Linked DNA regions of Homo sapiens. The protein of the gene in region 1 purifies or fractionates together with the protein of each later gene. This does not show direct contact. Each region holds a gene or a part of one and is shown on either strand. Other genes may lie near its edges.

Region 1 (3,820 bases):
ATGTTAGGTGTCTGTGTCTCTCCACAACATAGGCATCAACCCCAATCTGCCTTACGTTGGCCGTGAGCATTGGTAGAGTCAGCCTGACTTGGCGGAAGCACGTGTAGGTGGTCTTGCCTGTTAGCTTCTTACTCCCCCTTGCTGTGCCCTTTGAGGAGTTTGCCTCACGTTATAATTCTACATATTAGGCTCAGCACCTGTTTTTCTTTCTGGATGCATCTACAGCTTAGGTTCCTTTAGGTGTGAAAAGTATGTCCCCATATAGGATAGGTTGGGTTATAAAGGTGTCATTTCCTATTCTTTGCTGCATCTTGAACAGCTGACCATGGTGTGGTGTCCTTTGATAGTGTTGTTTGACAGACAAAGGGCTATCTGGCGATATGCTTGGCATTTTCCTGGGGAATGTAACTTTATGGACGTCTCAACTGAGGCTGACATGTCACAAGATATTGAGCATATTTTCAGGCACTTAGGATTGGTTTTAGAAATAAACAGATCTGCTTCTTACAGCTACTTCATCTGTTCCAGCTCCAAAGACAACAGGCCCTCCCTCTGCCCTCCCGTCTGTGAGCTCCCTGCCCAGCACCACCTCCTGCACTGCACTTCTGCCGTCCACATCCCAGCACACTGGCGACCTGACTAGCAGCCCTCTCTCTCAGCTTAGCAGGTATGGGGAAGGTGTGGGCCCAAAGTGAGAAGTACCTTGGGGCAAGTCCTGGAGCTCCTGTAGAAGGTTGCTTTCATGAACAGAGCACACTTGTTGTCTCTGACGTGATGTCCTGGGCTTTTGCATTACGACTGTAGCTTAGGTTTTGGCCAGGTTGTTCCTTAAAACCACCAGATATGGAAACCTTGCCTGCTTGTACCGCCTCTGCTGGCACAGAGCACTGGGTCCCCTGGGAGTAGGGTGAGGCCAGCAGCTCCCTCCTACCTGTCTTCACCCTCCAGAGGGTGCCTGAGCCTAGCCTCTCTGGGCATCGCTGGGCCCATGTCACTGAGGTGGAATGAGAATGATGGATTTCTGAGCAGGTGTCTGACTTGAACTTTCCATGGCTGAAGAAACGATGTTATTAGAACAAGGTGTAGGAAAATGGGTGGCGTTGCTACCTGTGTCTTCTGAGGAGTGTTCTCCATCACTCTTTAGCTAGGAGCAAAAGTGGATTTGATGGGAATTGGCATGTGGAGTTGAGCATAGGAACTTTGATCCCTCGTTCACAGATTGAATGGGATTGTCAAGGATGACCGTGTTCTTAGTGCAACTCTGTCTTCACTTTTCGCATCTGAGGAGCAAATGGATGTCGTTGAGGGAAGCTGGCTCTGGAGTTTTCCAGACCTCATGGCGAGTCATTCCCGTCCACCAGGACCCCATCACTGGGCTCTGTGGGGATAAGGAATGAGGATGGGTCTGAAGCCGGTCCTGTGCTAGGGACTATGATAAGTTTGAATCTAGCTCACTGACCCACGTGCGTCTTGTTCATCTGGAGTCACTTGTTCAGGTGGACATACGGCGCTCTGTTTTGTCTTCTAGTTCGCTCTCCAGCCACCAGAGCAGCCTCTCTGCACATGCAGCCCTCTCCTCGAGCACGTCACACACAGTAAGTGTCTGCGCGGCTTCCTCTTCCTCCGCCATGCTTGGGGAGCCTGGAGCTTAGTCACATGCAGCTGGGGCTTCAGTCTGATTTTTAGTGTCTGATAATCTAGAGTTGCTTGGCTGAAATGTCTTGATGGCATGATCTGGTTCGAGCTTCTGATTTCCTGGGCACCATCTGGGGACATCTTGCTTTCTAAGTTTGTAGCGCCTGGGAAGAATCATTGCTCCAGACCTTATCTGTCATTGGCAGGAGTGTCAGGTGGTGACCTTGCTCCCAGGAATTTGCTGTTTGATCTTTCCTCGTGCCTTCTTTCCTGACTCAGACGCAGAGATTGCAAGAAGGTCAATGTTGGAGAAGGGAGTCTAGATGGTGGAGGGCAGGAGTGGAAGCAAACATGCACTGCCGAGAAGCCAGGCAGGAGGGCTGGAGTCGGCGCGCCAGCTTTAATTTTCCTCATATGCCAAAGAGTAGCCCTAGATTATGGTTATTGAGGTGTGGCTCAGTGGGTCGTGGAGCCGTGAGCATGGCTTTCAGTGGTAGGAGTCAGCCAGATTGTGGTGGGTTGCGGAGTGAATGGTAGTGAGATGGAGAGGAGGGAGGAGGATTGTAGAGGGCATGCAATGAAAACTTAAGAGAGGCTGGAGCCTCTATTGGGAGGATAGAAAGGTGCCTGGATTAACAAAAAGTGCATGCTCCTGGACAACAGGAGGTGTTGGGCGAGGTTGGAGTAGGCAGGTCCACAGGCTGGGAGGAAGGATTAGGGTGCAGACGAATGGAGGAGGCAGGAAACTGATGAACTTGGTGTCCTCTGAAGAAGACAGCAGCTCACCAGCAGAGTGAGGTGGTGGAAAAGGGACATCCTGTCCTTTCCTCTGGATCTGGCTAATGCTGTGGCTTTCATACTCTAGTGTTCCAAGTCAAACCTTACACAGAATCTTTTATCATAAAACACACAAACTGCCACTTTCAAAGGAGAGCATAGTGTGGACACCTCTGCCTGTCCCTCTGCCCCTGCCCTCTGTGGCTCATGGGAGTGGTGAGCTGACCTCAGCAGGAGTGCCGTGGAGCTGTCCTCTGTGTCCGTGCCACTGCTGCCTGGGAGCCCAGTGCTCCTGCACTCATGGGGAGCTGCACTCTCCATCTCCTCAAAAAAAAACCTCCAGACCATGTATTCCAGCCTGCCACAGCCAGAATCGTCTCATCCAGTGGGTCCCATACTTTGTCAGCATGACAGAACTGTGACATTGCTAATACAGTTGTCCCTCCATATATGCAGGGGATTCATTCCAGGACCACTGCATACACCAAAATCTGCACATTCTCAAGTCCCACAGTTGCCCCTGTGGAACCCACCTATAGGAAAAGTCAGCCTTCCAAATATGGGTGTTTTCAAATTATGTATGCGTGCATTGGGTTGAAAAAGAAATCTGCCTGTAAGTGGACCCATGCATTTCAAGCCTGTGTTGTTCAGGGGTCAACTGTTTGTTCATAATATTTCATCTGAAAAGTTATGGAAAGATAGACAATGAAAAGTTTTTCTGTCTCTCATCTACTTGGCTCTACCCTTACATTTTCTCCATCCTTTTAATAAATAAAAGTCAAAACACGCAGTGCATACATGTAGTCATTTCCCCATTATCATCCGCTTTTTTTTTTTTTTTTTTTTTTTGAGATGCAGTCTCACTCTGTCGCCTAGGCTGGAGTGCAATGGCGCAATCTCAGCTCACTGCAACCTCCACTTCCCGGGTTCAAGCGATCCTCCTGCCTCAGTCTCCTGAGTAGCTGGGGTTACAGGCGCATACCACCATGCCCGGATAATTTTTGTATTTTTAGTAGAGACGGGATTTCACTATGTTGGTCAGACTGGTCTCAAACTCCTGACCTCGTAATCCACCCGCCTCGGCCTCCCAAAGTGGTGGGATTACAGGCGTGAACCACCGCGCCCGGCCATCATCTGCCCTTTTTATTCTTTTTCTCTTGTTACATAAATGAGAGTATTTTATGTACAGTGTCCTTCAACTTTTTTTTCCCCACTTGTGTATCCCCACAAGTGTATCTTGATGTTTCCATGTTGAAACTTAAGGGTTTTTTGTTGTTGTTGTTGTTGTTTCCCCACAGTTCTGCTTTATGATGTTATTTAAGGTTATTTAAGCAGCCGTCCATTTAGGGTCGTTTTCAGTCTTGATACCACAGAGAATGTTGCATTTGATAACCTACATATGTTGTTT
Region 2 (3,350 bases), on another chromosome or scaffold:
TTATTCTAGCTAATAAGCAACAGACTTGGAAAGGAAAAGGTCCTGACAAAGCTAAGCCTCCCGTTCAGGTTTCCTGACTCGTGAATTCAGTGCTGCTGCCACTACACGATGCATGCTCTTTGTATCAAGGGTGAGACAGCATTACACATACATAGAAAATTATCTATTTAAACTCTATTTGAACTTTTGATGAGTTTGTCTCCCCCTCCCCCACTCCTTTTCAGAATAACTTGACGTTTACAGGTACCATCAGTGGTGATGTCTGTGTGTGGAAAGATCACATATTGTGTAGAATCGTGGCGAGAGCTCACAACGGGCCTGTGTTTGCCATGTACACCACCCTGCGAGATGGACTTATCGTGACTGGGGGAAAGGAAAGGCCGTGAGTCCTCTTTCTTTTCACAGAATATTTATGCATTTGTGACCTACCTGAGGTTTGCAGTTAATTATTCTAGTTGTTTCTAGGCTACACAGAGTGTCCTCTCCGACCTTCCTCCTCATATGCTTCTCCTTTATTACCTTTTATGTGCCTTCTATTTGATTCTCATTTCTGGTCTTAATTCACTTCCAATTTTTTTCATGTTGGGGTGATACTTTTTCTGAGGTGTGGATAGGTAGTTGTCCTACAAGTTGAGTTACTTTTCTTAATGTCTGTATGCCTGTGTATGATTTGCTGAGTAGGAGGCCCATGGGGGAATCTGGAGCCAGGGTTGTATTTTGACTGCCTGCTCTCTTTTTGTTCAGAATGGATTCTAAGGAGTAGAATGCACATTGTTGCTTTAGAAAAGGATGAGGGAACTAGAGAGAACTGCCTTGTTTCCTTTTGCTTGAGGCAAATTTAAACTGTTTTATACAAGACCTCAAAATTTGAGAAGAGGTCTCTTCTGAGTGATTTTCAAATCTCCCAACAGTAACCAGATACTTATGATTTGATTTGTCACCAACATAGTCATATGCATGTTGAAACATGACATGTAGGCCAGGCACAGTGGCTCACACCTGTAATCTTATCACTTTGGGAGGCTGAGGCAGGTGGATCGCTTGAGCCCAGGAGTTCAAGACCAGCCTGGGCAACATGGTGAAACCCCATCGCTATAAAAAACAACAATTAGCCGGGTGTGGTGGCACATGCCTGTAGTCCCTGCTACTCAGGAGGCTGAGGTGGGAGGATCACTTGAGCCTGGGGAGGTCAAGGCTTTAGTGAGCTGTGATGGTGCCACTGCACTCCAGCCTGGGTGACAGAGTGAGACCCCATTTAAAAAACAAAAACAAAAACAAAAAAAAATGTGACATATAGTTGACTAAGAAGTACATTTCAATACAGGATTGAAAGAACCCACATATGTTAATTAAACACAAGCGCAGAATTTGTGCCTTTTACATAAAGGAAGAATGCACATAGGCATGCTTTCAGACAAGCAATTCATCTAGCAGAAAAGGAAGGAATACATTTTTCAGCCCTTCCAGGAATAAAATCCATAAATGGGCTCTATTTCGTCCTCCAACACTTGTATTTCCCACGTCATTTACTCCTGCACACCCCCACTCACTAGAAGCCTGCTAAACTGTTCCAGTGAGATATTTTAACACCTGATAGGGAATAAATATGCTTCTGTTTTGGCCTTCAAAAATAAGCTCTGGGCCAGTTGCAGTGGCTCACGCCTGTAATCCCAACACTTTGGGAGGCCGAGGTGGGCGGATCACGAGGTCAGGAGTTTGGGATCAGCCTGGCCAATATGGTGAAACTCCATCTCTACTAAAAATACAAAAATTAGCCAGGCATGGTGCCTGTAATCCCAGCTACTTGGGAGGCTGAAGGAGAAGAATCGCTTGAACCTGGGAGGCACAGGTTGCAGTGAGCCGAGATCACACCACTGCACTCCAGGCCAGGTGACAGAGCGACACTCTGTCTCAAAAAAATAAATAAATCAACTCTGTAGCATAGCATTTGTAATTCTATTATTTTGCCTTACATTTCCATTATCCTTTTAATAAAATTGTTTTTTTACATCTTCCTAATCAAGAAGTATTATGAGGCCAGGCACAGTGGCTCATACCTGGAATCCCAGCACTTTGGGAGGCCGAGGCAGGCAGATCACCTGAGGTCAAGGTATTTGAGACCAGCCTGGCCAACATGGTGAAACCCCATCTCTACTAAAAATACAGAAATTAGCTGGGTGTGGTGGTGCACACCTGTAATGCTAGCTACTCGGGAGGCTGAGGTAGGAGAATCGCTTGAACCTGGGAGGCAGAGGTTGCAATAAGCCTAGATCATGCCACTGCACTCAAGCCTGGGAGACAGAGCGAGACTACATCTTAAAAAAAAAAAAAAAAGTATTATGAGAGAGGATAATGTATTGTAATGTATTGTAGAGGCTAAATAAAATTATGCTCATGTCAGAAAAAAAGAGTATTTCTCAAAATAAAATTCACTGAAACTGGATGTTTATTTTGACTGAGATATAGTATATCCTCAAATTGCCATAGAAAGTTTACAAGAATATTAGAGGTAAATTATAAATATCAGGGCCTTTTTAAAAAAAAAAGATTCTGCTTATAACTTGGTATTTGTTTATAATAAAAATTATAGTAGCCAATAATGAACACTTACTCTGGCTTGGTTATTTACTTAGGTCAAAAGAAGGAGGAGCGGTTAAACTGTGGGATCAGGAACTGAGGCGGTGCCGTGCCTTCAGGCTTGAGACAGGACAAGCCACAGATTGTGTTCGTTCTGTGTGCAGAGGCAAAGTAAGATGTTCCATGAGCTGATACAGTGCAGCAGAAAACAGAAAGTGGTTATTACTGTGATTCCCTCACCCTTTGCAGCCTAATGAACAATACTTAATAATGCATAACGATGGATTTGCTTGCCAACATTACTCTGTCTTTGCTGCTTTCTTTGCCAAAGTTAGCACCAGTGTGGTGCATAAGCTAGGAAGCTATTCTGTCTAAATACTGTATGTAAACCTCCAATATTTTCTAGAATCTGCCAATTTAACAACTCTAGTAGACATAATTGAAAGCCCTTGGCAGTTGACTCATATTAGGACAGCTGTCTCCATTTTTTAAAAAAACACACATTCCCTAGATAAAACGTGCAGTAAACAAACAATGAAATACTACTCAGCCATAAAAAATAATGAAATTCTGTCATTCTTGGTGGCAACATGGATGAGACTGGAGGACATGATGTGAAGTGAAATAAGCCAGGCACAGAAAGATAAATACATGTTCTCACTCCTGTGCAGAAACTAAAAAAGTTGATCCCACAGAGGTGGAGAGTAGAATAGTGGTTACTGGAGGCGGACAAGGGGGAGGGGGAGGGGGATAGGGAAGGACTGGTTAAAGGA

What was found.
Region 2: the proteins of UBAP2 (region 1) and ZC3H14 fractionate together in Homo sapiens (co-fractionation; one large-scale study listed by BioGRID). This does not show direct contact.

Annotation. Positions count from the first base shown.
Region 1 is NC_000009.12:33,930,337-33,934,156, reverse strand, and holds part of UBAP2 (ubiquitin-associated protein 2), read left to right. Parts: exon of another isoform or gene 1-103; intron 104-528; coding exon 529-667; intron 668-1,528; coding exon 1,529-1,595; intron 1,596-3,820. UniProt on the Homo sapiens protein: Recruits the ubiquitination machinery to RNA polymerase II for polyubiquitination, removal and degradation, when the transcription-coupled nucleotide excision repair (TC-NER) machinery fails to resolve DNA damage. May promote the degradation of ANXA2.
Region 2 is NC_000014.9:88,622,002-88,625,351, reverse strand, and holds part of ZC3H14 (zinc finger CCCH domain-containing protein 14), read right to left. Parts: 3' UTR 2,749-3,350; coding exon of another isoform or gene 2,634-2,748; 3' UTR 383-2,633; coding exon of another isoform or gene 225-382; 3' UTR 1-224. Other genes in the region: EML5 (echinoderm microtubule-associated protein-like 5), read left to right, coding at 225-382, 2,634-2,748. UniProt on the Homo sapiens protein: RNA-binding protein involved in the biogenesis of circular RNAs (circRNAs), which are produced by back-splicing circularization of pre-mRNAs.